Linked DNA regions of Homo sapiens: region 2 is linked to region 1. Evidence: fine-mapped expression QTL. A gene starts in region 1. The other region holds a variant in brackets. All regions are shown on one strand. Distances are from middle to middle.

Region 1 (2,813 bases):
GCAGAGGTTGTGGTGAGCCGAGATCGTACCACTGCACTCCAGCCTGGGCAACAAGAGTGAAACTCCATCTCAAAAAAAAAAAAAGTACGGCAGATCCTCAAAAAATTAAAAATAGAATTACTACATAATCCAGCAATTCCACTTGTGTATATATATTCAGGAGTTGAAAGCAACAGATATTTGAACATCTGTGTGTATACCCAAAAGGGTTAAAAAACAGATATTTGTATATCCATGTTTACAGTATTATTTCACAGTAGCCAAAAGTGGAAACAACCTGTTATCCATTAACAGATGACTGAATGAACTGGTATATACATAAAATGGAATACTATTCAGCCTTAAAAGAAATTCTGACACGTTACCACATGGATGAACCTTGAGGACATTATGGTAAGTGAAATCAGTTACAAAAAGACAAATGCTGTATGAGTCCTTATATGAAATACCTAGAGTAGTCAAATTCATAAAGACAGAAAGAATGGTAGTCGCTGGGAAGGAGGGAGGGGAAGAATGAGGCGTTACCACTTACTGGGTACAGAGTTTCAGTTTTGCAAGATGAGTGCTGGAGATGGATGGTGGTAATGGTTGCATAACAATGTGAATGTATCTAATACCACTGAATTGTACCTTTAAAAATGGTTAAGATAGTAAATTTTACCATCTTCACAGTTTCCCGAGATTGCAAGGCCAGCAGTTAAAGACAAAAACAAAACTACTTCCAACTGCCCTACAGTGTGCAGACCTTTCCCTTGTCCTGCCCTGAGTAGAACTACAGTTGTCATTCGTGATCCTCCCTTTAAAAAATTATGCTTGTGGCTAGGCGCGGTGGCTTACACCTGTAATCCCAGCATTTTGGGAGGCCGAGGCGGGCGGATCACCTGAGGTCAGGAGTTCGAGACCAGCCTAGCCAACATGGTGAAACCCTGTCTCTGCTAAAAATACACATTAGCTGGATGTGGTGGTGCGCGCTTGTAGTCCCAGCTGCTCGGGAGGCTGAGAGAGGAGAATTGCTTGAACCCGGGAGGCAGAGGTTGCAGTGAGCCGAGCCGAGATCGCGCCACTGCACTCCAGCCTGGGCAACACTGTGAGACTCTGCCTCAAAAAAAAAAAAATCATGCTTGCGTTTCATGGCGAATGTTACACATTCAAACTTATCAAATATATTAATAGTAAGAAAATAGGTTTCCTATCCGTTGTATATATTTGAGTTCCAGGCGAGATTTCCTTCGCAGAAAGAGTTCCGCAGATGAAAAGTAAAAGAAAATCCGCGGCGAAAATAACCCGCGCGCAGAGGCCGGTCCCGCTACTAGCCCCGCCCAATCAACGAGGCCAATCAGCGGCCCGCAACGGGGGAGGGACACGCAGCCGTCAGCCGAACAATTCGATGACGAGGCCCAGGAAGCACGCTGAAACCCTGGGCGGCGGCAAGCTGTGCGACCTCTTCTGCGGCCGGCCTGGGCAGGTGTCTTCCTCGAGAGGCAGGCAGGGGATCCCGGACGTGAGTCCGTGCAGTTGGGTGTGTTGTGCGGCGGGTGGGGCGGGTTACCCGCCGTTACGCCCTGGCGGGTCCAGCGGACTCGCGGCGCAGACGCTGGGGAGGCCGCAGGCGCGACCCGGGGCGGGGACCGTGCTAGCTGCGTGCGTCCGCTGCGGCCTGTGGGTGCCCCGGGCTCCTACCTCAGCTCCCGCGCCGGCGGCTGCCTGTCCGCCGCGGTTGCGCGCGTTCCGGGGAGGTGCTTGGCCCAGAGAGCGGCCTACGGAGAAGGCACAGCGAGGGCAAAGCGAGACCTGAGCGCACGTTGAATTCTGTTGGCTTTGGTTATCTCTGAAAACTTTAAGCATAATTTGAATAAATGCTGTCAGCAGAATAGCTCGGATTTAGTTGTAGTTAATTTTCTAAAACTTCAAATCTGTGAATTAACACAGTTAACAACAACAACAAAAACGGACACAAAACAACCTCCAAAATGGATTTTTTTTTTTTTTTTGAGACGGAGTCTTGCTGTGTCACCCAGGCTGGAGTGCGGTGGTGCTATCTCCGCTCACGGCAACCTCCGCCTTCCGGGTTCCAGCGATTCTCCTGCCTCAGCCACCTGAGTAGATGGGACCACAGGTGCGCGCCACCAGGCCCGGCTAATTTGTAAATTTTATTTGTAGAGAAGGGGTCTCCCTGTGTTGTCCAGGCTTGTCTCTGACTCCTGGGCTCAAAGGATCTTCCCATCTTGGCCTCCCAAAGTGCTGGGATTACAAGCGTGAGCCATTGCGCCTGGCTCCAAATCTGATTTGAGTGTAAAAAGTTAGACACACCATAAGCTGTAGGTTTATTACTGGGTGGTGAAAAACAATTCAGGTTTTCTTTATAATAGTGATTATGAAGTGTTCTTCCCAGACTAGCTTTATCGTCATCTGGGAAATTGTTAAAAATGCAAATTCGCAAGTTTGAGAGCCATGGTTCCAAGAAACTGCATAAGCATACGAAATAAGTTGCAGCCTCCCGACTTATACCCTGGTACTTCTAGTCTAAAACAGGATTTGACTCTACTAATCCAGGTTAGTCTTGCCTTTCCCATTACTCATGTGCTTTCGTTGAAACCAAAGACTTTTTCTTTTGTGCCCATTTCTACTCACTGCCTGGCCGTCTGCACGACGATCTGTGTTTCCTGGTAGTTCTCCAGTCTAGTAGCTACTATAAACTACTCTCCCTATTTCCCGCTCTGTGGAGATGTCGTTCCAACAGGTCCTCTCCACTCTAAGACCCTATCCTCTCAGAGAAGCCCCTGAGAGCCATTAGTACTTTTGCCCTGGAGAGG
Region 2 (2,813 bases), 55 kb before region 1:
CAAAGCTGTAGATTTCACATAGAATTCACAATGTAGAGCAGAGTTTCTCAGCCTTGGCACTGCTAGCATCTGGGCCAGATAATTCTTTGTTGTGGAGGGTTGTCCTTTGTTGTAGGATGTTAACGGCATCCCCAACTAGATCCCAGTAGATCTACCCACTAGATCCCAGTAGTATCCCCAGTTGTGACTACCAAAAATGTCTTTAGATGTTGCCAAATGTCCTGACAGAATGCAAAATCACCCCCAGTTGAGATGGATTTTCACCATGGTGCCTCAGCCTCCTAACATGTTGGGATTACAGGTGTGAGCCACCACTCCCAGCTTTTTTTTTTTTTTTTTTTGAGACAGAGTCTCACTCTGTCGCCCAGGCTGGACTGCAGTGGCGTGACTTCGGCTCACTGTAACGTGCCTTGTAGGTTCAAGCAATTCTCCCTGCCTCAGCTTCCCGAGTAAGCTGGGATTACAGGCACCTGCCACCACGCCTGGCTAATTTTTGTATTTTTAGTAGAGATGGTGTTTCGCCATGTTGGCCAGCCTGGTCTTGAACTCCTGACCTCAGGTGATCTGTCTGCCTCGGCCTCCAAAAATGCTGACAGCCACCATGCCTGGCCCACTCCCAGCTTTTAAAATTCTTTTTACTTTTTTTTTGAAACAGGGTCTTGCTATGTCACCTAGGCTGCCAGGCTGGAGTGGAGTGGCATGATCATGGTCACTGCAGCCATGACCTTCTTGACTCAAGCGATTATCCCACCTCAGCCTTCTGAATAGCTGGGACTACAGGCATGTACCACCATGCCCAGCTAATTTTTAAATTTTTTGTAGAGATGGGGTTTTGCATGTTGCCCAGGCTAGTCTTGAACTGCTGGGCTCAAATGATCACCTGTTCTTTCTTTTTTGTGTGTGTTTTTTTGAGACAGGGTCTCACTCTGTTGCCCAGGCTGGAGTGCAGTGGCACAATCTCAGCTCACTGCAGCCTTGACATCTGGGCTCAAGTGATCCTCCCACCTCAGCCTCCCGAGTAGCTGGGACCACAGGCATGCACAACCATGCCTGGCTAATTTTTGTATTTTTTGTAGAGCCAGGGTTTCGCCATGTTTCCCAGGCTGGTTTCGAACTCCTGAGCTCGAGTGAATTGCTTACCTTAGCTTCCTAAAGTGCTGGGACCACAGACATGAGCCACTGCGCCCAGCCACTTGTTCTTAAAATAATATATAATAGCTTTAAAACTGTAAGATGAATATGGAAATATAGGAACTTTAAAGCTTAGTCCATTTTTTTTTTTTTTTT[G/TG]AGACAGAGTCTCTCTTTTGTTGCCCAGGCTAGAGTGCAGTGGCGTGATCTTGGCTCACTGCAACCTCTGCCGCCCAGGTTCAAGCTTCTCCTGCCAGTAGCTGGGATTACGGGCGCCCGCCACCACGGCCAGCTAATTTTCGTACTTTTAGTAGAGACGGGGTTTCGCCATGTTGGGCAGGGTGGTCTCAAACTCCTGACCTCAGGTGATCTGCCCACCTTGGCCTCCCAAAGTGCTGGGATTACAGGTGTGAGCCACCACGCCTGGCATGTCCAATGTTTTTACATAGGTCAAAACCCACATATATATAGTTAGTATGAGTGGTTGCAGATTCACAAATTCTTCTCATACAGTGTATGTTGTTACAAATAAGTTATGAAAAATTTAGGCCAGGTGAGGTGACTCACGCTTGTAATCCCAGCACTTTGAGAGGCTGAGGTGGGTGGATCACCTGAGGTCAGGAGCTTGAGACCAGCCTGGCCAACATGGTGAAACCCTGTATCTACTAAAAATAGAAAAGAATTAGTGGGGCTTAGTGGTGCGAGCCTATAGTCCCAGCTTCTCGGGTGTCTGAGGCAGGAGAATCGCTTGAACACAGGAGTCAGAGGGTGCAGTGAGCCGAGATTGTGCCATTGCACTCCAGCCTGGGCAACAGAGCGACACTCTGTCTCAAAAAAAAAAAAAATTATGAAAAATTTATTTGAGGAATCAAATAAAATGTTAATCTCATTGTGTGCTTTATGAAGTTTGAATGCTGTTTTGTCATCTGTTCTGCTTTTAATTAGTATAACCTGAATTTGGTGACATGCTGGTTTTTTTAAATTTTTTATTTAGGCAGCTAATACTTGATGGTCAATGGGATGAAGTTCTTCAGTTCATTCAGCCTCTAGAATGTATGGAAAAATTTGACAAAAAAAGGTAAGATTTTATCTAAAGTTTTTAGTGTCTCATCATTGGTAGAAGCTTAGCAAAACAATGAACAAAAATTTTCATTTTCATTTTTCTTTCTCCACTGGCCTTGAACAGAGAGTAAACAAATTGATCTCTCTCTGTCACCCAAGCTGGAGTGTGGTGGCATGATCACAGCTCACTGCAGCCTTGGTCTCCTGGGCTCAAGCAATCCTCCCACTTCAGCCTCTCAAGTAGCTGGGACTATACAGGCGTGTACCATCAGCCTAGCTAATTTTGTATTTTTTTTAGAGTTAGGGTTTCACCATGTTGCCCAGGCTTCCCTTGTGTTCATTTGGATTATTTTAAGTTGATTTAATGTTCACTGACCCTTTCTTTTGCTATTAGCAATCTGTTGATAAATTGTGAATTTTTAAAAACAGGTTCTTGTTCTACCACCAGGCTGATGTGCAGTGGCATGTATGTGGCACTGCAGCTTCAAATTCAACAGTGAATTTTTCATTTTGAATATTGTGCTTTTCATTTTCAAATTCGTATAATTTTTTTGTAAGATTTTTCCATCTGTTCATTCATTATGATTATATTTTTCTTTAGGTCCTTCAACATACTGAGAGTA

Which allele goes with the higher level. Alleles are on the strand shown, and positions count from the first base shown. SD is a standard deviation of normalised expression in the study named.
For the expression in iPS cells of the gene that starts at base 1,378 in region 1, TG is the low allele of the variant in region 2 and G is the other (large effect, 1.0 SD a copy in HipSci).

The links. PIP is the estimated chance that this variant, and not a neighbour inherited with it, causes the effect. A credible set is the group of variants that fine-mapping cannot tell apart.
Region 2: its variant is the best candidate, but not a certain one, in a credible set for the expression of CLCC1 in iPS cells (HipSci, PIP 0.72).

Annotation. Positions count from the first base shown.
Region 1 is chr1:108,962,049-108,964,861 of GRCh38, reverse strand. It overlaps CLCC1 (chloride channel CLIC like 1), which reads left to right and starts at 1,378. Exons shown (of 13, transcript NM_001377458.1): 1 at 1,378-1,501; 2 at 2,393-2,553. RefSeq lists silencers at 1,583-1,822, 1,961-2,255 and enhancers at 2,183-2,302, 2,675-2,813.
Region 2 is chr1:109,016,911-109,019,723 of GRCh38, reverse strand. WDR47 (WD repeat domain 47) reads left to right here. Exons shown (of 15, transcript NM_001142551.2): 3 at 2,123-2,206. Among named protein-coding and RNA genes, the nearest start is that of WDR47, 24 kb to the left of the region's middle. The variant G/TG (reference allele first, on the strand shown) is at 1,288.